7 separate regions of the Homo sapiens genome follow, and all the other regions are reported to be linked to region 4. The links are microRNA targets in miRTarBase. Many come from high-throughput screens and were not tested one by one. Region 4 holds a microRNA gene; each other region holds the end of a gene's coding sequence.

Region 1 (4,094 bases), not on the chromosome of region 4:
AAGTTTCTTTAACACTGTGGTGTAAATTATTTGCCCCATAAAAGAAAAAGTTAAATTCAGTCCATTTAAGTCAGTAATCACTCAAGCACTCATCTATCAACCTGGAACTTGAATTGGTTGATATCTAAAAGAAAAGAAAATACAAACAGATACTAAAAATAAGACTACTGAGCAAGCATCTTAAAAGTAACAAAAATACATTACTATTAAATGAACTCAACAAAAATGTTTGTTAATACTTTATTAGTATTTTCTAATGGACAGAACACAAACCAAATAAATTTTTTAATCCTTTTAGTTGAATAAAAATAACTGACATTCTGATTGTTGTTTCTTCTTTGTTAAAGAAAGAAAGTATTGATAGAACAGTTAGGCACACAGTTGACACTTACTGTACAATGATATGCACACATTATCTTTTAACAATTATAATCCTAAAATGTGCTCTTCATATTTTTTCCCTTGTAATACAGGAGCCATGCTCCTAAAAGCAAAATTTACTACTAATAAAAGAATTTTCCAAGGAGTGACAAAAAGACTTTTAAAACAAGTCCTTAAATAAAAGGATGCAGCAACAACGGAATGTAAGTTGTTGGATTAAGAAGACAGTTTAAGCTACATCTCAAAAAATTAAAAATTCATTTATCTTACAATTACTCAAATACACATGCATTAAATGAAAATATTGCACAAAATTAAAATTTTAGATTGTGAAATTTATATCATTCTTAATTTTTATAAAAATTGGTACACTTTCTGGTAGCACTTAACTGATTGATTTTTCTTCCCAAATACCAGCAGCACAAACTTAAAATGAACAAACTGAAATATTCAAGAAAGTTTTTGTTTTTTTTTTTTTTAAAAAAATTAAGGCTAACCAAGTGCATCCATTGGTCAATGGCACAATTGATTTCAGCAACTATTTGGAATATCCTAATTATAGGAAATGCCCATCTAAGTGATATATTTAAATAATACAATCAATTTTTTAAGGTGAATAAACTATGATGGTTTCTAAATAGTGTACATGTTACCTGAAAAATCAGAAAACACAAAGAATGATTAATTTCGAAAGTTCTTGCCTAAAGGCACCACTGACTTAAAAAACATTCAAAATCAAATACCAGAAGACATAAAGCCTCTTCATGTATATATTCATATATGCAATAAATGCATTAAATGTAACTTTATTAAACATAGTACACTGTACTTGACTTATGGTTAAATATTTTACACACAGCTTGACCAAGTCATTCAAAAAGTTATCTCTAATTTTAGCATGACCACAGCTCTTTCTGATGTAAAAGACAGATGTGCATAGAGAAGGTGCACCACCATTTACAAAGACTATCATTTGACATTTTCTGCTTCTGAAATATAAACTCTTCTAAACAAAAATTACTTTAAAAATCCATTTACTCAAATAGTTTTTGGTATGATTGCAGTTATCTTGCAGGGCTCTATTTTGAAAATTTGCAATATTACATGACCTTTATTTCCCTAATTGATGGCCAGTGCTCCTCACATTATATAGAAATGCTTTTTCACATGTACACGTTAGGGTCTTACATGAATTATTCTGTATACTGTTAGATTTATTCATGTCAAAAATATATTTGAAATGGGCAGAGGCATATATGAAAATCACTGCACTTATGGCCATGCTGATGCTTCCTACAGACATGTTTCATGTTTCAAACATTTTCACTTTTAAAGCCTGGGGCTCAGGGAGGGGCCAAGGCAGGGAGACACCCTGAGAAGAAGAAATACTATTTCTTCCACCAGAGCCACTAAGGATCTTTTCTCACTTGCAAGTTGCAATGAAAGGGATTTCATTTTATGTAATTCTGAAGACATGCAACATATGCTGAATATATGCATACTATAAGTATGCACAACAGCATTATTAATAAATATGATTATTATAAAGCTTTAAAGGAAGGCTTTATTCTGTTAATAACCCTCACTTTGTAAGTAGGATCTAAGTGAAAACAAGACAGTGATATCTTGTTCCAATCTTAAAGCTCCCAAATAACTGGGATACCAATACTCTGTCCCTTTATCTTAAGCACCCAGACTTTCTTTTAATACCAGGATCTTGGCTCAGTGGTCTGATAAGTAGCTTCATTATTTTAAGGTTTTAGTGTTAAATATTTTTAAAACAAAAAAAGCTGACACACCCAAACCCTTAGGCAATGAAAGTATTTAAAACTATGCAGAAATCCTGCATAGAAGGGATGTGAATACTTCTAAGATGGATAAAATGGACAGTCAGAAAACTATAGGAAATACAGAAGCTCCAAAACTAGAGAAAGTATTTTATTTTATTGATATAAAATTAATTTATGGGTTTAAAGGTATACACTGAGGGGTCTTGCCTACTAGCTTTATTTTGTAGAACTTTACATTATGTGAAATATAAATAAAAGCATATTTTTAAAAATATTATAGTTCTTTTTTCATCATTTATTTTCATATATGTACACTGTCATAGAATTAGGAATCTGTATGTTTACTATGACTAATAAGCTCATTAATCATTTAATTTGCTATTTCTGCAGTTACCTAAGGCATGTCTAGATCACACAATTAAAAATTATCATATGGTAACTTTCCAGACTACTATTTAAATTTCCATATTTTTAGAAGGACAAAATGTATTTGGCAGTTCTTCCAATAAATTATATCTTCTGTATAATCAGTAATCTGTTAAAGATAAAACTAATAATTTTGAAATTTAAATGAGAGCCACCACATGCTTCTTTTTGCACAAAGAATGCCAAAAGGAAACATAAAATTGAGTACCCTAAGAGCAAAACACAGCCCTTAAAGCACACATAAGAATAAAAATTGTTGTATACCAATGAATAACAAATCCAATCAAATTCTGTGTTTGATTGGTTTTATTTTATACTCAGCTTTATTTTATATCACAAAACTGTAATTCAGGTATAAGGTTATTTCACACTTTAAGGGCATTCTGTCTCTTTCTCCAGACCTGAAAGAGATGTTTCAAGGATCATTCACCTGGCTAATCCACAATATATCAAAATGCTGACAGACCTACAAAATCATTATGCCAAACAAACTCCTCCAAGTCGTACATTGCACAGTCTCCAACTGTTAAACAAATTAGCCAATTTATCTCTGAACCATTGTTTTGTGCTTTCCTTAGCTTTCATATATACACTCTGGCACTTTGTCATTGCTGGAGAATGCTGATTAGTTTGAAATGGAAGAAACCAACGCCATTCTTGCTTGAGATGGGGGCAGTTTTCTCTCAATGTTGCAAAATATGCACCAAATCATTTAAGACACAGAAATCTCTCTTGGTAGTGGTGGATTATAGATGAGAATGAGAAGAACCACAGACTTATGGATGTATTAATAATCTATTTTGAGACACTAAAAGACTGGTGCAGACACAACAGTATTTGAGTTAAGCCCCAGAAGATCTGTCCATACCATTAGTCCTGGACAAAATGAACACCAGCTTCATAGAGTGGAGTGTCACCTTTTCTGCAAAGAAGGCGCTTGAGTAGTTTGAAGTTTCTGTTTATATTTCTGCATCTGCTTTGACCGTGAATGCAGTTTGTTGAAAAGTTCACGGAATTTATACTGTGGAAATAAGGTTTCTAAAAAGCCTTCCAAGAAGACATAAACCATTCTCCTATTTAATTGGTTGTGCTGAAACATTTCAAAAACACGAAGAATACCTTTCCGTGTTGTCTCAGCCCCAATAATGTGCTTCAGCTCATCTAAATGAAGTGGAGGAAAACACACATAATTATTCAAAGGAAACACAAGGCCTAAACTCTTAAATGTTCTTAAATTAAGGTACACAGCAGAGTAACTGATGAACAGTAGGTAACCAGTTAATGCATTTCAGCTATGTACTATAGCTGAAACTTAATATGCATCTTTGCATGCATGCATCTATTTACGCACTTAATGCAAAAGCTACTGGGAGACAATATAGCACAGGTGTAAGAGATAAAAAATAAAAAACAGTCTCAAAGATCCCAAACTATGATTACAAACATGTCCCTTAATACCCATGTGATACTTACCCACCACCCTGACTCTCTTTTCTC
Region 2 (4,094 bases), not on the chromosome of region 4:
GTAAGCTCATGAATTTAAATTGATTCACAATAATGTGGATAGGATCTAATGAAAAACAACGTAAGCACCCACCTTAGAACCTAGAATCAGAAATTGTCACACAAAGCTCTGCTGCCTGGATTTATTAAATTGAAATCACTGTGATTATAAATTTGCATAGCTATTGTTATAACATTTCTGTATGAATTATAATTGACATATGAAAATGCTATTCACCTCAGTAATTTGCATAGACAAAAGATGAACATTTCCTTAGGATTACTGTCCTAAGCAAATAATTAAATCATTGTTAGTAAAATGCCACCAGTTCATTTCTGCCTCCTTATGTTTTCAGGCTAATTCTGGTTGTACTAATTTTATTTTTTCGGGGGTTAGAAGTTAGGAGTTCCATTTACCTCTTTTTCCTTTTTTGTATTCTTTGATTCATATACTTTGTTTTTCTTTTTCAGATCTTGTAGAAAATTTTGATGAGGCATCAAAGAATGAAGCTAACTAAAAGTTTGGTTTTTGGAAGCTGGCATGGACTAGATTTAACAAATCAGCTATGTGGTTCCAAAGTTTTACAGACATGGAGAACATCACCTGTTACTAGTTCAGTAATATAAATATTTTGTATATTAATAATGCTGTTTGTTCAGCATTTTTCGGTCATTTGATTTTGCATTTTGCACTTCCTCCCAGGATATTTTTTTGGTCAAAATATGAAGTATTGGTGCAGTTTGAGGGTGTTTTGGTTTTTGATTCCTGGTTTTTTTGTTTTTTGTTTGGGGTATTTTTGGTGTATGTATGTTTATGTATGTGTGTGGGTATGTGTGTATACAGTGGAGAGCAAATTGGAAAACAGTTCTATTTATCCTCCTCCCTCCCCAGTAGAAATAAAAAAAATCTTTACATTTGTTACTTTTCTTTTCCCCCCGTAAGACACAGAATTAATGGAAAGTGAGTATCTTGGATTTCAAATCTGAAGAGATTTTTACCATTAGTGGTTTGATTTTAATTTGCTTGGTTAACTATCATATTTTTCATACACTTCTCTGGATTTAAAATATCTTGAGGTATTTTGCCACTGGCTTCATGCTGGAGTAATGGGTAACATATCTTTGGTATGGTTGCCTTAGATTAACTTACCTAGTCAGACCCAGAAGAACTTCTTTTACTAGCTTGCTTCCTAAATGCCTTTTTTCCTCTCCTTTTGGTCTCCAAATGGCCTGGTCAGCTTTTGGTAATATTCTTCCTCATCTTCCACCTAGCTTGAGAAGGATGTTCTCCATATAGAGTTTAGCGAGTGCCTAATCCCTCCTTTTGTAAGATTTTGTTCCCTCAGCTTGAGGAACAACTTCATCTTCAACTTTTTATTTCTCCCTGATGTTACAGTTTGGTAGATTTCAAACTGGAATAGCTAGCATGTGCTTGCTAAATAATTTTATGCCAGCCTTATCCTGTATCCTAGCTGTTCTTAACAGCAGGTACAAAAATGCCTGTTTTTCAGCAAGGTTGAAATTGGGAATGTCCTTTTGAATCAGAAGAAAATAGGCCATAGACTCATCTCCCAGCACAAATGGGCATTCTATGAAATGGTACTGGCCCTAGGAGGATTTCCTCAACCACTCTCCTACTCTTGGCCTTGAACCTACCTCTGGGTTGGATCTTACTATTGTAGCTGCTCACTATACCCTCCTGCATGCTTAGAATAATGCTTTGAGGGGAGCACTGGTAAAACACAGTATTTATTTTTTTACCTCCTTTAAGAGGACTTGGAGGTAAGTTGCATTCATTCACTCAAGTTTCCCTCTTGCTGTCTAATAGAAGCTTACTTTTTGCTATATCAGCATTTGTTACAGCCAATATTTAAGGACAAAATTTAGAAAATATATCATTTCCTGGCCCATCATCAAACTAATACAGCTTAACCTTGCAGCTACCAACTTTTGTGTCAAGCTAGATATCTTTATTTGATATCTAAGGTGCAAGACCAACAATATATTAAGAGATCTGTAGACATGAAGGCAAAGCTCTTGTATTTTTTTTCATCCAAACACCTCAATTTATTTTATAAATTCGTTCATTTTTCCTGTTATGTTTTATATAATATATGGACTAAACAAAATAAAATAACAGTGCAAAAGAGGAGAATATTTCCTCTTGTGCTTTTCTTGATGTTGTGTACAGAATTTCCTTTTATATTATTCCTCTACCCTCCACCTGTAAATGAATGTTAGTGCAGTAATTGTTTGAAATAATGCCTCATCCAGTGTTAGGTCAGTAGCTCCACAGTCTACACAGTCCAGAATTCTTTCTCTAATTGTCCCAAAGGGGGACATTGTGGAGGCAGAGTTAGGGGGAACCACTTCAAGTGGTTAGGGACAGATAAATAATAGGCAGTATAGCACATGAAAGAAAACACACACTTGGAAGCCAGGAGACTTGTGTCCTAGTCAAAACTCTGGCATTATGTGACCTTGGACAGGTCATCTAACTACTCTGAAATTTATCATCAGTCAAATAAGATTTTATTCTGTTTTGTTTTGTTTGAGATGGGGATTTGCTCTTGTTGTCCAGGCCGAACTGCAATGTTGTGGTCTCGGCTGACTGCAACCTCCACCTCCCAGATTCAAGCGATTCTCCTGTCTCAGCCTCCACAGTAGCTGGGATTTTTTTTTTTTTTTTTTGTATTTTTAGTAGAGATGGGGTTTTACCATGTTGCCCAGGCCGGTCTTGAATTCCTGTCCTCAGGTGATTCATTTGCCTCGGCCTCCCAAAGTGCTAGGATTACAGGCGTGAGCCACTGCACCCAGCCCAAATGAGATGTTTCTAAATCTAAAGTTTCTTCTGCTTCTGCATTTCTGTGAATCTCATTTGAAATTTTTCAGGGAAGGGATTTTATCATTTGTTCAGAGATGTCTTTATTTTTATTAATACCCATAAAACGTTTGTGTATTTGCTTCTTCCTCTTTCTCCTTTTGATCACATTTTAGCTACTTATCTAGAGGATCTCTGGCCAAGTATTCCCTTTTATTGTATTGATAACAATTCTTAATGGCTGGCCTCTCTTGTGTACAATGAGCCAATATTCTTTTTTGTTCTATATTTTTGTATCTTCCCCTTTCCTGAACAAAGCATATTTAGAGTCTCAAAGAAATCCTCTCCACAAAGACATGTTCCTCCCTCTGGTGTGGGTAGACATAGGGTAAGAGTTTGGATGAAACTTTTGTAAATTGTAGTGTTCTTGGCATAAATATGAATTAAATCTTTTTTTATATTTAAATAACTAGTTAAATATGTGCTTCTTACTAAGATTAGGTATTTTTTGCCAAGATAACAATGATAAAAACATTTTGGGGGGGAAATTGACCTTAAAATTTTGGGATAATTCAAGAAATGTCTGCAGAAAATTGATTTATGATCTTAATTTTTGTGTTAGTCCTTTGAGGTTTTTTTGTTTTTGTTTTTGTTCTTTGTAAAGCGCCTTATCTGTTTTGGACAAGTCCAAAGTAAATGGTTGGGCTCTTATATCTGTTTTACCCTTATTTTTCCCATTAAGTAATGGTTTAAGAATATATCAAGCACCTTAATTTGTTGTTAAGTAGCTAGTGCTTACAGGATTCCATTAAATTCACTTTAATAAGCCTATGAAGTTCTTATGAAAAACCCATATCTGCGATATGTTTGATTTGTTTCTTTGTTTTAATTCAGTGTTTAACCCTAGGTATGCTACATACCCATAAATAAGATACCATGGTAAGAGATAGTATGTTATAGTGGGAAAAGCACAAGTTTTTAGATAGAGATCAATTCTGCTATCTACCCTTACATTGTAACCTTTCTGACAGGGCTGCTGCGGTGCACAACTTCGGGAGCCATCACTTATTTTTGTTGTGTTCCAGAAGGTGTCATTTTCATAGACTGCAGTGTGAATAGTGTCCTCCATTAATAATGCAATGATGGCCTTGCTCTCTGAGCCTCAGTTTTATCTATAAAATGGTACCTAGAAGAGTCATGATTTCTTAGAATCCCCTAAATTATTAAGGTGAAGGTAGAAGATGATTAAAGCGTGTTATCTCCTAAGCTATGGCTTAGATTTTCCGAAGCTCATG
Region 3 (4,094 bases), not on the chromosome of region 4:
GTTGTTGTTTAAAAAATGTCCAGAATATGAAATTGAAATGTTTGCTAGTAACTAAATTACCTGGCTCTTGATGATTTTTTCCCGAAGTAACTTAAATTTTATTAAAATACTAGAATTGTCTTGTAAATGGATGTCAAGGCCTTCTGTGCATTTGGCACCTCATAAGTCAGTTTGAACTGCTGAGGAAACTCTTCTGTTTCCTAAATCTGTTGACTTAGGACAAAAATGGTAATAGCCTTTTGGAGCCTACTAAATTGAATTTAGTTCCAGGCCTGATTTACGCAGGATAACTCAATGACTTTTGTTTCTGTTTCAATATTTTAGGTGTTTAATGAACGCTGCCGAATTCACTTCAAGCCTCCAAAGAATGAATAAAGAGAGATTCTTTTTTTTTTTTTTTTTTTTTTTTTTTTAAGGACTGGGTCATCTCATAAGAGCTAAGCATGACAGATATCAACAGGGCGGGCTTTCTAGGATGATTTCTGAGCCAACAGTCCAAGACCTTTTGTTGATTTCAGCCCCACTTAGCCAAGACCTCAAGTATAAATAATTCTGATAATTATGGAGAAATCAACTGCTATTTTATACTGATTCTGTAAAAAAAAAAAAAAAAAATTTTTGTAACTATTAAAATAATTTTCTGACTCAGTGTACATATTTATTTGATTGTTTTCTATGTTGAGACAGTTCTCTTTTTATTTATTTATTGAATTTTTAGTTTCTATTTTTTTAATATCCTGTCAGGTTGCAAGACAGTTCTCATAAGATAATTTGCATGCACTTTCAATATCTGATTTGTAGTGTATTTTTTAATTTTTATAAATTTATTGGCATGGATGTGGACCTTTTTGGTTATTGATAAGTTTATTCCTTGATTTATCTTTGTGGGTTGATTATAAAAGGGCAGTATTATAAGCTGGACAATGCCCAAAGAAGTTTTCTTTTAGTACCTTAACTGATCTTATTTTCAGATATAAAAACTAATTTTTGGTGGAATTCTTTCCTGGACAGTATTTCCATGGTCATGGAAAAGGAAAGCAGAAATTCAGGAAAGGGAAGAGCAGGGAAGAGCTTGCATGACAGCAAATGAGTTAGTAACAAACCTGCTGTAATTACAGGATTTGGTCCTTGCAAAAAAAACCACTTTCTAGTGTATGGAGTGGTTATGTTACTAGTTTTCTGTTGCTGCTTAACAAATTACCACAAACAGTATCTTACAGTTCTGTAGGCCAGATGGGCAGATTTGACTGGAATTTTTTTTGTTTAGGGTCTCAAAGCTGAAATCAAGCTGAGTCCCAGGCTGGGCTTTGGTCTGGAGTCTAGGGGAAGAGTCTGCTGCTAAGCTCATTGAGTTGCCAGATTGTTGCATCGTGGTCCTGAGGTCCCCATTTCCTTGCTGACTGTCAGGTACCACTCTCAGCTCCAGGAAGCTACCCACATTTCTTGACACATGGCTCCTTCCATCTTTAAGCTGGGCGTGGTGCATTCAGTTCTTCTCATACTTGGAATCTATCTGACTTCCCTTTCTGCTACAAACCAGACAAAATGATTTTAAAGGGCTTGTGTGATTAGGCCTACCACATCTTTTTGCTTGACTCAAAGTCAACTGATGAGAATCATAATTACATCTGTAAATCTCTTGCCAGATTATGTAATAACCACAGACACCAAGTTTCATGGTCTGAGGGATATCTTGGGGAGCCAATTTAGGACTCTGCCCACCACAGTGATTTAAACAAGCCACCTGGCTCTGGCCCAGTTAGATTAGCCAGCTGGGTCTCTGGTGGGCCTGTGTACATTGACCACCATCAGATTATGCATTTGGAAATGAGTGATAAAGATATAAAGTGCCCACCATTCTTTCAACAAAACGTAGAGCACTTACTGTAGGTCAGACACTTTTTGTGGAGATTATAATCTAGTCTCAACAAAAATTTCCTAGAGGTCTGCAGTAAAAAATGCCTTTATATATAAAGTTGAGTAAGTAATTTTTGGGTAGATAAGTGAGTTGAAAGGATGGATGCAAGAATAGAAAGACAAAGATCTCCCTGATTCTGCTGCTCAGGAGGGAATTCAGATCCTTGGAAAGGATTCATTAACAGTCTTTCCAGATTTTCAGGTCTGCCAAAATACCATCTAGCTAATCCAATTATGTTAGTAGAGTGCCTGAATCATTCCAGTGTAACATATGAAAAATGTGCAATGACGGCAGCATGGAGTGACAGTATAAATGAATAGGTTTAGTGTGATGAATGGCATTTAGAGCCTCAACTAATGAAGGAAGATGGATGACATTGCTTTTGAAAGTTGATTTGCCTGCTGGAAAAGGGTCCTGTGTGTAATTACTGCCTTAGAACAATTTGTTGATTTGCTTTTGTTGCCTGAAAGGTAGGATTCAGCAACTCACACACACAGAAAAGAAGTAGAAGGTGCGAAAATTCACAGATGAGTTTGGCCCTTCCTTGGCAGAACAGAAGACAGCCATACGAAGAAACACCTATGATGATACATTTGCAAATTCTTTTAACAAATATTTAAATGCCTTCCTGGGCACTATTAACCACTATTGTTGCATCACTCAGCAAAACAAAAATACCTGGTTTTAAAGAGCTTATATTTGGTGAAGGAAGACAGTAGTAAGTTATATGGTATGCTAAAATGTGATAAAGTTCTATGAAAAAAAATAGAGAAGGAAATCAGGAATGGGATGGAGAGTGGGTTGCAAATGACTGTTTTCAGCTGACTGGAAAATATAATGCCCTTGTCTTTGAAAAGTTGCTTTAACTTGAGATTGAAATGTACCAAGTAAGTGCAGTAATAAAAAGGGTGTTTTCTAATATGTCATTCTTTTATAAGTTGTTCTCCGAACTACATGTGGTGGTTCATGTCTGCAATCCCAGTACTTTGGGAGGCTGAGTCGGAAGGATCAAGAGCCCAGGAGTTCGAGACCAGCCCAGGCAACACAGTGAGACCCAGTCTCTTAAAAAAAATTTTTAAATGGTGCTTGTCTGTAGTTCCAGCTACTCATGAGGCTGAGACGGGAAGATCTCTTGAACCCAGGAGGTTGAGGCTCCAGTGAACTATGATTGTGCCACTGCCTTCCAGCCTTGGTGGCAGAGCAAGATCCTGTTTTAATAATAAGTTGTACACTGAAGATACCAGTTTGGGAAATGTAGTGATAATGTACCCAGTGCTGCTATAGTAGTCCCTGCTAATGTGCCAGTGTCCAGGAGTGATAAACTTGTCATCTTGTAAAATGGGAGATTAATCAAATGTGTGAGCCCTTTTTAAATCAAGAAAAATGAACATTCTATCTAGAGTTAGGTGATCTAATCAAACATATTAGAGATTACTTAGGTTACTCATGATTTCTGTGTGTATTTAGGCTTGTAGAGTACCCTTGATGAACTTGATTGACCCTTAAAAAAGAATCTTTATTATTGAGCATAAACATTGAAGAATAAAGAAGATAGAAAGTGACCACTCCTGATTGGGGTAGCATTTCCAGGACAAGCCTGATTTTATCCCACAGAATTACGTTGGGAAGGAAATTCCCAACCTCTAAAGAGGTTTAGACAAACATGGCTTCCAGCTTCTGAATGCAATGGCCAGCTGGGGGCACCCCTGTCCAAGGGAAGAGGACTTGGCTGAGGTGCATTTGTGTATCTCCTGGTGCATTAAGAAGGGATAGGTAATCTACTGGCACTTAAAGATAATTGCTGTGATTGAATGATTTTCCCACTCCAGTTTTAAAAACCAGCAAGCAAAATTTCTCCTGCTTAAAAGCCCCCAGTGGCTGGCCGGGCGCAGTGGCTTACGCCTGTAATCCCAGCACTTTGGGAGGCCAAGGTGGGTGGATCACTTGAGGTCAGGAGTTCAAGACCAGCCTGGCCAACATGGTGAAACCCAGTCTCTACTAAAAATACAAAAATTAGCTGGGCGTGGTGGCGGGCGCCTGTAATCCAAGCTACTCAGAGGGCTGAGGCAGGAGAATTGCTTAAACCCAGGAGGTGGAGGTTGCAGTGAGCTGAGATTGCGCCACTGCACTCCAGCCTGGGCGACAGATTTTTGACAGATTTGAGACTCTGTCTCAA
Region 4 (4,094 bases):
TCACCCCTTTGGGGGTGACGACGAAGCCCAGGAATTCCACGGTTTGGCGGTGGAACTGGCTCTTGTCCAGGGAGCAGTAGACGTTGTGATGGCGGAAGCGGACCAGGACTTGGCGGACGTGGTGGAGGTGCTCCTCCTGACTCATTGAGTAGATCAGGACTTCCTGGCCATAAGAAAGCACAAAGAACCCTAGCATGTCCTTTAGGATGAAGTGAATCACGTTCTGAGGTATGATAGGGTCTGGGGAGAGCGCAAACGGCTGGTAGCTCTTCATCTCTTCAAGCTCCAAACCAAACGCTGCTTTCCACACATCTTCGGTGCGGTGCCCGTTCACGCTTTCCTCCACAATGGTCCCACGCAGCTCCAGTTTTGTGAACCACTCGGCTCCGTGTAACTGGTCAAACAGTTCCGGAATCATCTGTATGTAGTCCTGTCTGTTGGTCAGCATGTCCTGCAGGTCCCAGTATTCCTCCTGTAGCCTGGCTCTTTCTTGCATCCTGGCACCCACAGGTTCCCAAGGCGCGGTGGAGGGACACTCGTAAAAGGTCTCGCTGTGATCACTGTCTCCAGCCTGCTGAAGCTCAGAGGGCTCTGATTCAGAAAGATCATCGGATCCGTCTGAGCTTGGCTGGTCGGAAGTCTCATCATCTGCTTCCTTCGGGTTAAACACGTCGGCCAGGTCTGAGTATGGGTGTGGCAGTCCGGGTAGCAGGCTCATGCCGTGCCTCTCTAGGGCAATGCATGGCGGGGGCGGGCGGAAGCAGTTCTTCAGGCAGTAGGGAGAGTGGAAGGTGCAGCGGCCTTTGATCCAGTCGACTTCGGGGGCGTGGACTCGGAGCCAGCGGATGCCTAGGACCACAGAGAAGTTCGGTGAAGGTACGATGTCAAATTCGATGGACTCCTGGTGGTTCTGGTGGATACACACCAGGGGCTCCGTGTAGAGCCAGACAGGCTCGTTGCCAATCAGCGAGCCGTCCACGGATTGGACCGGCTGTGGGTACGGCTTCTCGTAGAGCTCGACGTAGTGCTCTTGGGCGAACTTCTCATCCATGAAGTTGCCGTCAGCTCCCGAATCCACCAGGGCCTGGACCGCGACGCTGTGGTAGGGGTTCACTCTCACCATGAGCAGCAGGAAGAGGTGGGCGCGATTGATGTCCGGATGGACTTCGCTGGGCAACCAGCTGCTGACCATCCACCTCTCTGGAGCAGGTGAGTCGATCCAGGTCAGGTTCCGGGGGCGGGCCTCGGGGGGCAGCCTGAGCATAGCTCTTCTCTCTGCCAGCTTCTCTTCTATTTGCAGGATGAGCACAATCAGACTGTCTAGGGAATCCGGCTGAGGGACCCGGAATAGATAGTGCCTGATCTCCTCGTTGAGCCCCTGGCACAAGTGGGCCTGCAGGACTTCATCTGGCCAGCCCAAGATGGGTACCAGGCTCTGGAACTCATCGATGTACTCAGTGGCAGAGCGGCCGCCCTGCCTGATGGTGAACATGGCCTCTTCTGCCACACGCAGTGCCTGGCGGTACTCAAACACTTCGGACATGGCCTCCAGGAAGGCTGGGAAGTCTCCGATCAGGGGGCTGTTTTCCTGCAGTAGAGCTTTGGCCCATTCTAATGCCAAGCCGGACAGGTGATTGATGACATAGCCAACTCTCAGACGGTCGTTATAGAACATTCTTGGGTAGCTCTGTAAGGTCAGTTGGCAGAGTACGATGAACTCGTGGAATTCTCTGCGATCGCCAGAGAAGTGCTTTGGGGCGGGCAGTTGGCCTGCATTGATCCCTTTGATCAAGATCTCTTCTGCTACTCTCTGTTGCTCTTTGAGGTCTTGCATTCGGAAGTACAGCGAGATGATGGACCTCACCATGGCCATAAGTTCTGCGGTTGAGTGCTCGGTCTGGTTTTGCTCTTGAGGAGTCTCCTCCCTTCCCGATTCCTTCAGGTCAGTGTGAGCCTCTTGTTCTTCTCGGGCTCCCGATGGGTTGACTGATGCTTCTTTCATCCTATCAGATGCTCCACTGAGTGGATCCCCCCTTGCCTGGTGTGAACCGTTGCATGACTCCTCCAGGTCTTGGAGTAGGTCATTGGGTGGATCCTCTATTTCCTTACGTGGGCCACTGGATGGCTCCTCCATGTCTTGGAGTAGATCAGTGGGCAGCTCTTCCATTTCCTGGAGTGGGCCACTGGGGGGCTCCTTCTTTTCCTGGGCTGGGCCGCTGGCTGGCCCTGCCTCTCCCCGCACTCCACTGCCCGACGTCGCCTCGGTGGTGTTGGATGAGCCCTCGGAGGACTCCATTTGTTTTGATGATGGATTCTTATGCTCCATCATCGTCTCAAATGAGTCTTCAGAGGGTTCTATCATTTCGTCGGATGGAAAGGAGTGTATTCTGAAGATTGGTAAGGTTGTGATGGCGTCCAGTCAGTAGCTGGGACCGTGGAGATCAGAACCTGGTGGTGGAAGGGGAGTGTGGGGAGTAAAGGCAGTAGTTTAGGATCTTGTGAAGTGGCAGTATCAGGGTCTCAAGGACAAATCAGATGCCCAACTAATCAGAGCAGAGAGAAATGGGGGAAAGCCTTCTTGTATCGAGCCAGCCTCTTTGGCTGGTCACTTGGGGTGCCCCCAGGGAGGGAAGATCTGTCAACCCCTGACCTGCCTCCCAGGCTTATTCAGTCTGCCTGTCCTGTCCTTTTCCTCCATAGATGTGAGAAATTCACAGCCCATAAATTCTGTGGCTGGGAGCAGCCACCGTGGCAGGCGGGTACCTGGCAGGGTGCACAGGCTGCTCCATTCCCCCCTGGCACATGCACCTGGTCAATCCTCTTTTCCTGCTTTGGTCACCTGAGAATCACAGAGGTCACATCTCAGCACCATCCAAAGCCACCCCTGGCAGGCTCAGGGCTCTGGAGCAAGCCCAGCCACCTTGGTTGTGGAGCGGGAATCTCTAGCAAAGATGCCTACTGTTTCACCAGTGCAGTGGAAGAGGAGAAAATGGGCACTTGGCCACTGTCCCGTCAGTTGGGTCAGCAGCCCAAAATAGTTCTTATTTCCTTCCCCATGTTCAAAATAGAAATTTCAGGGGGTGTGTACAGGTCTGGGTTTTTTTTTTTTTTTTCCATAAATTTTATAACATACCTACTATGTGCTGGATAACTGCATATTTGTTACTTGATTCTAACTCAGACTTTTGGCCAATTTCTCTTTCTCGATTTGGTCTCCTTCCAATGCTATGTTCTCCCGACCTCTGAGCTGTTGAGGAGATCTTCAAATAATCTCCTTCTCTTCCTACAATCTCCACTCTCCCAGGACTGCCCTCTTTGTGAGGCTTCTGGAACTTCACACATCTGGCCTCAATTTCACCAGTGCAAGCATATCTGCACGCCTCTCCAATCTTATCCTCCCAGGTCCCCTTCTTAACGCCAGTGGGTCTGGTCTCCTCTTTCTAGCAAATATCTTTTTCTCTCTGTTGCTGGTTGAGCCCTCCCAACAGACATGTATCTGGCAGAGTTGGGACATTGAGTGTGGGGGTTGGGGGGAACATGTGACATCTTTGGAATCTGACGGTCCCAGAGTGGATTTTTGGAAATCTAGTGTTGGGTGGTTTTAGTGGGCTGAGACAGAATTGAAAGGGAATGTCTTGGTTGGGGTTATTTGCACATTTCTTCTCTGCTGGGGCAGAGCAAATTAAGCTTTGATTATCTGATAGATTAACTGTAAAGCTACTGCTCTTTATAAATTTAACACCTTTTGTTACTTCTGAGTTTTCTTCTAAGCCACTGGACCCATCCGTAAAAAAAAAAAAAAAAACTGCGTTCCCCCTTACGTGAAACTCATTGGCTAAAATCCAAGCTTTCCAACAGGATACAAAATTCAGATCTGCTGTTTCTCAAAATTAAGTACACCCTTGTTAGCATGACACTTAAATTTGATCATGCAGTCTCTCTGATTAAAGCCTTCCACTGTTTATTTACTGTCTGCAATATTAAATCCAAACCTTCTAGCGTAAACATATCTGACATGTAAACTCACCAAAACTATTCTCTGGTTAAAATGTAAGGGCCTTAATATAATATAAAATTCTTATTTTGTCATTCCT
Region 5 (4,000 bases), not on the chromosome of region 4:
AGTGGAGAGGGGGTGCCCCAGAGGCTCTGATGCTCTTAGAGGGGACTGCAAGTTGGCAAGGCCAGGGGCATGAAGCACAGTGTTTTATGATTTTATTTTATCCTAGATAAGGTTGAAGAAGACACCCAGTCATAGAATGAGCCCCGCCTCCTGACAGCAGCCGGTTCAGAGCAAAGGCCTGCTTCTTAAACCCTCGCCAAGCCACTGAGCACTGGCCCAAATCCAGTAACAAGTCCTTTCTAATACCTCTTTCAGAGACTCCCCCTGGTTCGCTGTGGTGTTCATTCCCCCTTACTGCAAGAAGAAACCCAGCTTGTTAACCACAGGTGAGGTGTGCTCCCAGTGGTCTTTGGCTGCAGGGCATTGACAAGATAGGTCCCATCAAACACCCCCATCACTTCCAAGATTCCAAGATATGCGCACTTCATCTGTCATTTGCACATGAGAAAGCTGAGGGCTACGGAGGCAACCAGACTTGTCAAAGGTCACAGAGTAGGTAAGGTAACATTGTATCATCCAAATGAGGTATCTTCGAGCGTGAAAGGGGCCTCCTAATAACTTAGCAGAGGCAGTCGGTGTCAACCGGGACCTTCCTGGGCAGATCAGGTGTGTGGTCTCCCCATCATGCAGCAAGAGCCAGGGAGACCAAGCCTGGGTCTCACCATCTCACTCCACTACCCCAAGCCCCCTGCAGATGCTAACTCTAGAACAGGGTTACCATCTTCCTGCTGGCAGGCCCAGCAACCAGAGGCTCTTGTTTAAGTCTAAAGCCACTGCGGTTGTGGTTCAGGGGTGTGGGGAATCACTCCTGAGATTCAGCACCACACAGCACACCCCACGGTCATGCCACTGCAGTGAGGGCTTACTTCCGGAAGAGGGCCTCTGGTGCCCGTCAGGCGTAAGGCCTCACGTATCCTGCCCCGAGGGAAGGGGTGGTTTTAAAGAAAAGAATTTGCAGGTGAATGAAGATGACCCCTTTAAATGTTGAAAGTAGTTTTATTTTAGCCCTTAGTGCTGACGCTGTTTCTAACGTGGGTTGTAGGCTGCCCTGCCTTAGGCAACAGAGCACAGGAGCATGCTACCCCTCACCTCATCCGAAGACTCAGCTGTGACCAGGAACTCCTGTCCTGAGTCATGACAGCAGAGAGGGTGTACCCTGTGGCATCCTTCACTGCAGAGGCAGAAATGACCCAGAAAGAAAAGGAAGTGTGTTCCCAGGGCCATGACCTTGTAACCCAGCACACAGGGGCATCTCCTTCCCTAGGCCAGGACCCCCGGCCTCAACCCGGAAGCCCTTCCCTAGGCCGGGAACCCCAGCCTCAACCCAGAACCCCATAGCCCAGGTGAAGGTCTCTGACTCCCAGGTGGCCCAGGGTGCAGGCTCTGAGGGCGTGGTCCTGGTTTGAGGTAGTGTTACTGCCATTTTCTCTGCAGCTGCCAGGATCCTGGGCTGGGGCACAGGCAAGCGTTGCAGGGATCAGCGTAACAATAGCATCACCCTGAGATGGTTCAATAGGGTACAGTGATGTCTTCAGGGGCTGCAAAGACAGCTTGAGCTATTTCCCCACCATACTCAACTGCCCCAAACAGCTGGGAGGCTGTCACTCTTCTGCCTCTGGTGTGTCCATTTTTTACTTCTCTGTTCCCACCTCAGCTTCTGCTCTGCACTCACAGAAATCAAGCTCACTAGATTGTGAGCCCTCTGAAGGCAAGCACGGTGTCAGTAGTTCATGTCTCTTTACCCCTAGAGATCACAGCTCAATATCTGGCATATAGTAGATGCTCACTAAATGCCATCCAATTCCAATTGTTTTGTTTTGAGGCAGGGTCTCACTCTGTCACCCAGGCCGGAGTGCAGTGGTGCGATCTCGGCTCACTGCAACTTCCATCTCCTGTGCTTAAGCTATCCTCCAGCTCAGCCTCCCAAGTAGCTGAGACTACAGGTGTGCACCACCACGCCCAGCTAATTTTTGTAGTTTTAGTAGAGATAGGGTTTCGCTATGTTGCCCAGGCTGCTCTCCAACTCCTGGCCTCAAGTGATCCACCCACTTTAGCCTCCCAAAATGCTCAGATTACAGGCATGAGCCACCGCACCTGGCTAGCCAACTGATTCAAACTGAAGTAGGCCAGGAAGATGAATTTCACCTACAATTCCAAGTCAAAGCAAATGTATTCCAGAGGCAGGGGTGGGGGGTGGTGTTCCTCTGGGGGCTTTTTGCCTGCTTTGTGAATACATACAGGCCATTTAGAAGTTTGAATGCTGGGAAGTAAGAGGGCTGTGAGTCTAAAAGTTGGGAACGTGGGGGAGAGTGATTTTATCTGCAACAGGTTCCTGGGTCCTGGTGAGTTCTGTACACCCTTGATGACCACCGATTCTGGGCCAGGCCAAAGGCCCATCTGGGCACAGGCGATCTCAAGGTGAGTAAAGTCAAGATGCTGCCCTTCAACGGGAGGCAGGCAGCCATGCCACACTGACAAATATACAGGTCCCAAAGGCAGCGCAGAGAGGCAAGACCACCTGGTTCCAGGAGGCAGCGACATCAGGAAAACCTTTCCAAGGGAGGTCATCTGTGTAGGGGTTTGAAGGGTGAGCACGAATTTGCCAAGCTGAAAAGGGAGCCAAGGGCATCCTGGTGGAGGAGAACAGCTTGGGCAAGAGTGTGAGCCGCAAGATGGGCAGGGGGGCTAGGCTTGGAACTGGAGGAGCAGAGAGAATGAGGTCAGCAGGGGTCAGTCACAGAAGGTTTTGGGTCCTGGCCAAGGAGCGATGGGAGCTGCAGGAGGAATGTGGCCCAGGAGGAGATGAGGCTCCCTCTGTGTAAAGACGGATCACGCCATCTACCAAGTGGACTATAAGACACAATAGGAATGGGAAACCTGACTGGCCTTCACAAAGGATCAGGGGCCCAGAGGGAGCACCAAGGAAGGTTCCTCTCAGAGGTCAGCTTTGGGGGAAGGTGGAAAATGCTTTTGAGGGCTTCAGCTGCTGCAAACCTCAACAAATCATATTTTGCCTTCAAAGGTTGGCCAAAGACCACTAACTATTGGAAAAACAAGAGTCCACTAATAGTCATCATCCCCTCCCTGTGTATTTCTTTACCATTCTCAAAATGCCACCATCTCATTGAACCTCCATATCATCCCATTTTGCAGATAGGGAAACTGAGGCCCTGTGATGTCACACAGGGGTCAGCAGCAGTTCCAGACTAGAAGCTACGGAGCACAAACATCTCAGCCTTGGGTGTCAGGCTCAAAACCCAGCTCCTTGTCCGGGAGGAGGTCCCCGGCTCCATCTGGCAGCCCATAGTACAGGTCTTCCTCTTCCTTCTCAGGTTCCTCCCCACCTGTGTCCGAAGCCTCCTTCTCCTCCACCTTTGTCCTTGGGTACCGCTGCCAGTTGTTGGGCAGGGCTATTTCCCACTGCTGCCCCTCTTGGGGCTCATCCTCCAACGTTGGGGCATCAATCAGGGCAAAGTCTTGGAAGCGGTCCAGCGGGCACCTGCAGCCCTGAGGTTCCTGTTGTGGGGAACAAGCTTCCTCCCTGTCATGTGGAGATGCATTGGGGCTGCTGCCTTCACTGGAGTCCATGTCCAGGTCATCTTGGAAGGAAGCCAAGGGGGCAGGGCCCTGGGGACAGGCCAGGGGGCTGCAGGGACAAAGACCACAAGGGCAAGGGTATCTCTGAGTCAGAATGCCTGGGTCCACATTCCAGCCGCTAGCTGCAAGACCTAGGGTAGGATAATCCACCTTCCCGGGCCTCAGTTTCTTCCCAATAACAGAATTCACTCCTGCAGTTCTTTCTTAGGTTTACAGCAGATAATATGTGCAAGGCACTTTGCACAGTGCCTGGCACATAGAAGGTGCTCATGAAATAGGGCTATTACTATGCTATTATCTGAACCAGGTCACTCATCTACTTCTCCAATTATTCAGGGTTCTCCTCTGTTGCTCATAGGCCCAGTTACACTGAGGTGTCCCCGGGTGTCTTTGCCTCCCTCAT
Region 6 (4,087 bases), not on the chromosome of region 4:
CTGCAGCCACTGTGAGAGGCCACAGAGGGGAAGGGGACCCTGACGCCGGGCGCTGCCGCCTGGGGGAGCATGGCACGATTGCTCTTAGTGTTGAACTTTCTGTTTTGTCTCTTGCCCGTCCGGTTTTAGTTCCTGAAATTAAAGAAGTGGTGAGCCACAAGTACAAGACACCAATGGTGAGTGTGCCGCTCAACCCTGATGGGCCACGGTGCGCAGGGCTCCCTGGGGGACCTTCGGACAGGAGGAGGGGAGGGCCCTCTGAGCGCACAGGGGTGAGTGGGGACCTCGTTTTGTTGCCAAAGGTTCAACTCAGGCTGAAACAGGTCTTGAGCCCTGAGAGACAGACACACACACACGGATCCCCTCTCCCATGGGGACAGCTTCCTTGCTTGGAGCTCACGTTTAGCCCAGAGGCCCATGCCCAGTGTTAGGGCAGGAGTTGCCCATTGGCAGATCCTTCACATATGGAGATGGAGGAGTCTCAGTATCGTGATCCGCCTGGTTTTCTCTCCTCTAGGCCCACGAAATCTGCTACTCCGTATTATGTCTCTTCTCGTACGTGGCTGCAGTTCATAGCAGTGAGGAAGATCTCAGAACCCCGCCCCGGCCTGTCTCTAGCTGATGGAGAGGGGCTACGCAGCTGCCCCAGCCCAGGGCACGCCCCTGGCCCCTTGCTGTTCCCAAGTGCACGATGCTGCTGTGACTGAGGAGTGGATGATGCTCGTGTGTCCTCTGCAAGCCCCCTGCTGTGGCTTGGTTGGTTACCGGTTATGTGTCCCTCTGAGTGTGTCTTGAGCGTGTCCACCTTCTCCCTCTCCACTCCCAGAAGACCAAACTGCCTTCCCCTCAGGGCTCAAGAATGTGTACAGTCTGTGGGGCCGGTGTGAACCCACTATTTTGTGTCCTTGAGACATTTGTGTTGTGGTTCCTTGTCCTTGTCCCTGGCGTTATAACTGTCCACTGCAAGAGTCTGGCTCTCCCTTCTCTGTGACCCGGCATGACTGGGCGCCTGGAGCAGTTTCACTCTGTGAGGAGTGAGGGAACCCTGGGGCTCACCCTCTCAGAGGAAGGGCACAGAGAGGAAGGGAAGAATTGGGGGGCAGCCGGAGTGAGTGGCAGCCTCCCTGCTTCCTTCTGCATTCCCAAGCCGGCAGCTACTGCCCAGGGCCCGCAGTGTTGGCTGCTGCCTGCCACAGCCTCTGTGACTGCAGTGGAGCGGCGAATTCCCTGTGGCCTGCCATGCCTTCGGCATCAGAGGATGGAGTGGTCGAGGCTAGTGGAGTCCCAGGGACCGCTGGCTGCTCTGCCTGAGCATCAGGGAGGGGGCAGGAAAGACCAAGCTGGGTTTGCACATCTGTCTGCAGGCTGTCTCTCCAGGCACGGGGTGTCAGGAGGGAGAGACAGCCTGGGTATGGGCAAGAAATGACTGTAAATATTTCAGCCCCACATTATTTATAGAAAATGTACAGTTGTGTGAATGTGAAATAAATGTCCTCAACTCCCTTCAGGCTCCCTGGCTGCCTTGTGTTAAATGACACCTCCTCTTGGCTCAGGCCTGAGGAAAGCTATCCCTGGACTCTAAAAAGTCACCTCAGGCTGGAAGGAAGGAAGGAGATGAGGTCATCCATGTCCAAGCTTTGGCACACGGAGGCCCCAGCTCCCCTGTTCTGGGCTCCTAGAGCAAGGCTGCGGGAGGAGCTTTCCTTCCTGGGCACCTGAGGGCCCTGCAGAGAGCTGGGCTGCCATGAATGAACAGGCTGCTAGAGGGAGCAGCCAGACTGGGCGTCCTCACCTGAACTGAGATTAAGTGAAAGAAAGCCAAGGCCCTGGCCCTCTCCGTTCCCTTACAGGTGGGTATGGTCGAGAGAGGTGTGGTGATTCAGCCAGGGCCTCCCACAGGGCCCCGGACTCCTGGCCAGGAGTGTCTTCCACTGCATAGAACTCCCAGAAGCTCCCCTAGGAGCTGCCTTCATGGAATTCTGTCCTGGAAAAACCTGGCTGCACTCTCAGGGAATTTGAGACCTGCTGGCTTCCCGCGCCCAAAAGGAAACAGATGCTCGGATTTAGGCTCCCCATGGGGGAAGTGAGAGCAGAGTGGGGCCCTGGCCCTGACACCTTTCTGGTGCCCAGCGTCCTGGACTGGATTGGGTTGCTGTCTCCCACCGGGGATATGGGTCTGAACCCGCTGCTGGCTTATTGCTGGCTGGGACTCCAAAGCCACCTAGTGCAGCTCCACCCCAGCACAATCACAACACTGAGATTCTGCCTCACCCCACCTCCAGGCGGTTGTGACCACGGCCCCTGGCACAAGGATCACGCTGAGCACCTGGGACCAGTTAAATGCACTTTCCGCTGTCACAGCTCAGTTTCATCATCTGAAGAGTGAATGCTGTAGGGGAAGACAGGTTCCTTCTAGCGTTAATGTTTTATGAACTCAGAAACCACTCTGGGCCTGGTTTAATCATCGGGAAAACAAAACAAAAAACAGTATCTGCTCTCACTTTGCTGTGAAGATCAATGTCCCTGGGCTTTTTTCTTTTTTTTTTTTTGAGACATGGTCTCACTCCATCACCCAGGCTGAAGTGCAGTGGCATGATCTCGGCCCACCTCAAACTCTACCTCCTGGGTTCAGGTGATTCTCCTGCCTCAGCCTTCCAAATAGCTGGGATTATAGGCGCGCCACCTTGCCCAGCTAATTTTTGTATTTTTAGTAGAGACGGGGTTTCACCATGTTGGCCAGGCTGGTCTTGATCTCCTGACCTCAGGTGATCGGCCCGCCTCCGCCTCCCAAAGTGCTGGGATAACAGGCATGAGCCACCGCACCTGGCCATCCCCTGTGCATTTTTATGAAAACAGGCACACCGAAATTGAGAAGAGTGAGTTCTCTGTGACTGCACTTATCTTTTATTGCCCAATAAACATTGGGAAGACATAGCAGGCCAGAAAGGCCTGTCCCCAGACATTGTTTCTTGAGGCCACCCTCCTTTTACCCCAAAGATCCAGGGGCTTCCTTCAGGAGCCCTGTGGACCAGTCTGTGCAACACCCACTCAGGACTGCCCGACAACTGCCCTGCTGATCCCCCATCGCAGCACAGGAGACACACTTGTCACACATACATCCAACAGTAGGGAGGGGTTTCCCCAACTTCCCTCCAGGCTCCTGGCACGGGGCTGGCATCCGGTTGTACCTGCAACACAGGTTATCTTACGAGTGAATGGAGGGCCCCTACAGCCTCCCATTTACTGATGGCTGCCCCAGGACCAAGGGCCAGGGCTCAGCCACTGACTTGTGCCCTGGGTGTCGGGTGGTACATACCTGGCCATCCCCAGGAGCCAGCCTGGTCACTGAGGCACTGCAGAAGAGGAGGCCATGTCACTGTGTCCTCCCAGCCTTCTGGAAGCTATTGCCCATCTGGGCGTGGCAGGGTCCGTGCCCTTGCAGCCAGGGCAGGTGCTTGGCCGAGGACAACGGAGCAAAGCCCAGGGTCCCCACTGCCGCCCGCTCTTCCCATCTCCCAGGCCCTGGCCCCGAGGGCTCCTCACCTCGCACCTCCAGGCGGCACTCACACCGTGCCTCGCCCTGTAAGTTGGTGGCCCTGCAGACATAGATGCCCCCGTCAAAGGGGCAGGGCTTTCTAATCTCCAGAGTCAACACTCCCTGCTTGCTGAACATGCGGAAGCGGGCGTCTTCTCCCAGGTCCAGGCCATTCTTGAACCAGGAAATCTTGGGCTATAAATAAGGTAAAGAGAGGGAGGGAAGCCATCCAGGCTGAGAGGGGACCTGGCAGGGACCCAGGGAGACACATCTGTGTTTCTACTCGGGGGGTCCCACGAGAGTCCCTGACTATGCCCAAGGCTGGAAACAAACATGGAACCAAGAGTGAGTACCATGGCCCTGCCCAGGGGGAGGAACCCGGTCCATACACCCCAAGGTGGAGAGAAAGCAGGGGAGACAGGCTGGGGAGAGGACTGCTCAACGTCGGGGCCTGTGAGCCCTGCCTCCTGGTCGGCCTGGACCAGCGCCTAAAGTTCCCTACCTTGGGGCTACCCCGGACAGCACAGCAGAGCATAGCAGTGTAGCCCGCGA
Region 7 (4,000 bases), not on the chromosome of region 4:
CCACCACCACCAGGAGAGCCGTCTCAACTCGGTCTCGTCCACGCAGGGCGATATGATGCAGAAGATGCCCGGGGAAAGCCTCTCGCGGGCTGGCGCCAAGGCCGCGGGAGAGAGCAGCAAGTACAAAATCAAGAAGCAGCTGTCGGAGCAGGACCTACAGCAGTTGAGGCTGAAGATCAACGGACGCGAACGCAAGCGGATGCACGACCTGAACCTAGCCATGGACGGGCTGCGCGAAGTCATGCCCTACGCGCATGGGCCGTCGGTGCGCAAGCTCTCCAAGATCGCCACACTCCTGCTCGCCAGAAACTACATCCTCATGCTCACCAGCTCCCTGGAGGAGATGAAGAGGCTGGTTGGCGAGATCTATGGGGGCCACCACTCGGCCTTTCACTGCGGGACCGTGGGCCACTCGGCCGGCCACCCCGCGCACGCGGCCAACTCCGTGCACCCGGTGCACCCCATCTTGGGCGGCGCGCTCTCATCTGGCAACGCCTCGTCACCGCTGTCCGCCGCCTCACTTCCCGCCATCGGCACCATCCGGCCTCCCCACTCGCTACTCAAGGCGCCCTCCACGCCGCCCGCGCTGCAGCTGGGCAGCGGCTTCCAGCACTGGGCTGGTCTGCCCTGCCCCTGCACCATCTGCCAGATGCCGCCGCCGCCGCACCTGTCCGCTCTCTCCACAGCCAACATGGCCCGGCTGTCGGCCGAGTCCAAGGACTTGCTCAAGTGAGCAGCGGGCGGGCCCGGCTGCCAAGGAGGAGGGAGAGCGGCGGGAGGGGCCGCGGTGCCGGGCCGGGAGGGAAGAGGGAGGCTGCACGCTCGGCCCACGGGAGGGCAGGCTCCGGGGCCCGCAGCCTCCCACGCTGTCTGAGAGATCTCAGACTCCACTTGACCCCCGGAGGGAAAGGACCAAAATCAAACCGCAATTTCTAGGTGGTAGCAAAGGGGGACTCGAACCAGATGTCGTGTGTTTTGCATGCATGCTTCTTTTCCCCATGCCGCGCCAGTATTTTTCACTGCCATATGCTCTTGTCAAAACTGCATTTGTTGTATAAAGATGGGATCGGTGTAGTTAAAAACTTGCGAAGGGACTTTTGAGTTGGCTTTCTCTGACTCTGTGTTCTCGCTTTGGAAAAAGACGGCCATCCCTTTTGTGCAAAACAAATGTAAATATTTTCTTGAGATGGATGCGATTATGATTGTCTCTGTCCTTGCCACAGTTTTTCTAGAGACAATGGAGAGAGAAAGAGAGAGAGAGCGCGAGAGAGATCAAGACCCAAGTTTTGAATCTCAACCGAGGTCCAGGGCATGACACCTCCTATGTGGGTTTTCCTTTCGACGCAGTGTAGGTCAAAAGAATGCATGCACGCTTCTAAATGAATCTTGTCTGAATATGTCGTGCAGGCTGTGGTGCCGTTTTCCTTGTAACAAGGATTTATTAGTGAATTATCCCAAGTACTCCATATATCTGTCTGTGGTTGTATGAAATGAAAAAAGGGGCAGAGTGCAAAGACCCACACTCACGCACACGCGCTTCTTCTCCCACCCCCACCCCCTTCAAACTTTATTCGGAACCTTCCTTTGCTGTTCTGGGGCCGCTATTGTAAAAGCCTGGGCTCCCTCTAGTAGCTTGCGCCACCCCCCCTCGCTCAGTTATTCTGCATGCGGGGTTGGCTCTCTCTATTATCAGCTTTGAAAACTTATCCTGGTTTTGGGAGGGGTGCCGTTTTTATTTTCCTGAACATTTGCTTGAAATATTTTGTTAGGGCCTCAAAGACGATACCTGTCTTTATTTTTTATATATTCTTGATAACTATGATATATTTATTAATAACCAGTGTTTCTGGATGAGATTTCAAATAAAAAAGAACCTTTAAATCGTGGCTTTGCCTTTGCCTAAAATCTTAGCAGATGGGGGTAGTGGGATAGGAAACACGTGGACCAGGTAAGGTGTATCTGGGTGAGGAATTTGGATGGGTGGGCAGATGTGAAGGTTTTCCGTGATTACGTACAAGTAAACAGGATGGGTAAATTGGTGCTGATTTTTGGAACTAAATGTCCTTCAAGCGGGCATTGCCCACATTCATAGTATTATGCTATTTGAGCTCATTTCTCTGCAGTAATCAGACCCTCATAAACTCGAGAATTGAATTTTAAAAAGTAATCTGGAAACTTAAAGTGGCAGGAAATGAGAGGTGGAGTGTCACTACGATGACTGTGTTGGCAACAAACAAGGATGAAGCAGTACGTTAACTTCTTTTCACTTTAAATTGAACTTGTGCTTTTCCCCCCATGTTAAAATCTAGTATACATTTTAAAAGTCAACAAAGAGTGGTCTTAGAAAATAGTCAAATACTCACCCTGCTTGCCTGCACCCTCGGAAGCATGGCCTACAGAGAAAGGGAAGGCTTCTCTGCTTTGTAAGGTGAGCTCCGGGTGAGTCAAACCACCACCCAAGTCTCAGAATCTTGCAGATTTATAGCGAGAATCCTCCCTTCTTTCTTCCCTTAGAAGATTGCTGGTCTGATTAGCTATATACATTGGGCATCTTCTACAAAAAAGTCAGCTAAAACGGGAGTCATTTTAATAAACTACTTTTCTCTTTTCACCTCCCGCCATAACACTTCTAAATGGTTTGTCTAAGCAGGAGTAATCCAGCAAGACAGTTTTGTCTATTTGTTTAAAGGGGACAATAAATCGAGCTGTAGTGAGGATAGCCCCAACAACACAAGCCTCCATTTCCCTCTGAAGAAAATAGAACCCTGATTGAAATGCAACACCCCAGGATTTGCTTCTGAATAAGTTGTAACATCACCTAGATGTTGGTTGAGGCCAAAGCTCCTCTCCAATGGGGGGAGGCTTGTGGTCTCTTTCTAGAATCCAGCAAGGAGAGCACGTCTAGGAAGCATTTGCGTTTGCCCTGTCTTTCCTGGGTCCCTGATGCCTACCCAGTACTGCCTCTGTCAGGCAGAGCATCTCTGTGGGTTTCTCTTCTATGCAAATCATCCCCCTCCATCCCTTTTTACCCTCCCATCGCTACCCCACTCTCAGCCAGGCGAAAGACCTAAGTTAGCATCTACAGTGGAGGGTACTTGTTTCCACTGGTTTTAGGCAGACAAATGGGGGAATAATCGTCTGTTTCCCAGGGGTGATTCATTTCTCTGGGTGAGGAAAGAGCCTATTGAAGATTTATTTGAAACCAACACAAGGCAGCCCTCCAGTCTTTCCCCAGAGTTTATTATTTAGAAAGGGGAGGGGTGGGAGAAGTTTCATCAATCAGGAAAACGACTTTCTCCTTAGCCACTTGCTTCTTTTGAGTCCTGTTTCCAAAGGCCTGGTTCTGGGGAAAGACTCAGTGCCTTACAGTTGGCCTAGTGGTGGGCCTCATGCCTTCTCTAAAACTGAGTCTTAAATTGGGTTATGCAAAGGAATAAAGCCACATTCTTTACACTAGGACAGTCGTGGATTTTGTGATTGTGCTGCTGAGACAGGAAATCCTTGATTTACAGCAGTGGTCAGTTTAAAGAGCTGTGATGTCCACTCACATAAGCTGAAAGGAAGCTTGAGCACAGGGAACTCTATTGCAAATTTTGCAACTAAAATGGGAAATAGACACCACTTCCAATATCGAGAAGATCTCTTAAGTGAGCAGAGCTCTTTTCTGGGATACAAAAATTCTTTTGGCTTCGAGACCAGAAGAGAGGATTTCTTTAAGTACAGGACAGGAACCCAGTGAGGAAGGTGATTTGAGAGCCACGTCATCTGAGGTTTCTGGATTTATTGGGAAGAAATAATCTCCATTCGCTCTCCGGGAAGGCCCTTCCCTTGATGCCTAGGCGGGTCTGCTGGGCATGTGAGTTTGCAGGCAGACTTTTACTGTCATTGCACTTCCCTTTAAATACTCGAATTATCGACGCCAGAAAAAAGATTTCATGACCGCAAAGGTGAAAATGGGTTTCGGCCGGGATTTTTTTTCGTTGTAAACTTGTCACTTTCT

The links. Region 4 holds the annotated microRNA hsa-miR-136-5p (ACUCCAUUUGUUUUGAUGAUGGA, at 2,290-2,312, shown strand). A microRNA usually pairs through its seed, bases 2 to 8, with sites in the 3' UTR of a target mRNA and lowers its output. Matches are read on the target gene's strand: a 7mer-m8 pairs with bases 2 to 8, a 7mer-A1 pairs with bases 2 to 7 and ends in A, and an 8mer does both.
Region 1: miRTarBase lists SNX13 as a target of hsa-miR-136-5p. The part of its 3' UTR that is shown has no 7-base or 8-base seed match.
Region 2: the mRNA of BTF3L4 is a reported target of hsa-miR-136-5p. Seed matches in the 3' UTR shown: 7mer-A1 at 569-575.
Region 3: the mRNA of MIX23 is a reported target of hsa-miR-136-5p. Seed matches in the 3' UTR shown: 7mer-A1 at 562-568.
Region 5: miRTarBase lists BSND as a target of hsa-miR-136-5p. The part of its 3' UTR that is shown has no 7-base or 8-base seed match.
Region 6: the mRNA of MADD is a reported target of hsa-miR-136-5p. The part of its 3' UTR that is shown has no 7-base or 8-base seed match.
Region 7: miRTarBase lists OLIG3 as a target of hsa-miR-136-5p. Seed matches in the 3' UTR shown: 8mer at 1,237-1,244.

Annotation. Positions count from the first base shown.
Region 1 is chr7:17,790,535-17,794,628 of GRCh38, forward strand. SNX13 (sorting nexin 13) reads right to left here. Exons shown (of 26, transcript NM_015132.5): 26 at 227-3,758. The coding sequence ends at 3,511. Among named protein-coding and RNA genes, the nearest start is that of SNX13, 150 kb to the right of the region's middle.
Region 2 is chr1:52,086,263-52,090,356 of GRCh38, forward strand. BTF3L4 (basic transcription factor 3 like 4) reads left to right here. Exons shown (of 6, transcript NM_152265.5): 6 at 450-4,094. The coding sequence ends at 496. Among named protein-coding and RNA genes, the nearest start is that of BTF3L4, 32 kb to the left of the region's middle.
Region 3 is chr3:122,356,150-122,360,243 of GRCh38, reverse strand. MIX23 (mitochondrial matrix import factor 23) reads left to right here. Exons shown (of 5, transcript NM_001017928.4): 5 at 325-653. The coding sequence ends at 375. Among named protein-coding and RNA genes, the nearest start is that of MIX23, 25 kb to the left of the region's middle. RefSeq lists a silencer at 1,635-1,835.
Region 4 is chr14:100,882,427-100,886,520 of GRCh38, forward strand. MIR136 (microRNA 136) reads left to right here and starts at 2,276; the gene lies at 2,276-2,357. It overlaps RTL1 (retrotransposon Gag like 1), which reads right to left. Exons shown (of 4, transcript NM_001134888.3): 4 at 1-2,448. The coding sequence starts at 2,362. It overlaps MIR127 (microRNA 127), which reads left to right and starts at 553; the gene lies at 553-649. It overlaps MIR432 (microRNA 432), which reads left to right and starts at 2,057; the gene lies at 2,057-2,150. RefSeq lists a silencer at 3,266-3,560.
Region 5 is chr1:55,007,860-55,011,859 of GRCh38, reverse strand. It overlaps BSND (barttin CLCNK type accessory subunit beta), which reads right to left. Exons shown (of 4, transcript NM_057176.3): 4 at 1-3,646. The coding sequence ends at 3,232. Among named protein-coding and RNA genes, the nearest start is that of BSND, 11 kb to the right of the region's middle.
Region 6 is chr11:47,328,529-47,332,615 of GRCh38, forward strand. It overlaps MADD (MAP kinase activating death domain), which reads left to right. Exons shown (of 37, transcript NM_001376571.1): 36 at 130-176; 37 at 518-1,503. The coding sequence ends at 622. MYBPC3 (myosin binding protein C3) reads right to left here. Exons shown (of 35, transcript NM_000256.3): 32 at 4,038-4,087; 33 at 3,544-3,730; 34 at 3,317-3,353; 35 at 2,878-3,188. The coding sequence ends at 3,343. Among named protein-coding and RNA genes, the nearest start is that of MYBPC3, 22 kb to the right of the region's middle.
Region 7 is chr6:137,490,085-137,494,084 of GRCh38, reverse strand. It overlaps OLIG3 (oligodendrocyte transcription factor 3), which reads left to right. Exons shown (of 1, transcript NM_175747.2): 1 at 1-1,886. The coding sequence ends at 733. Among named protein-coding and RNA genes, the nearest start is that of OLIG3, 2.3 kb to the left of the region's middle. RefSeq lists an enhancer at 282-781.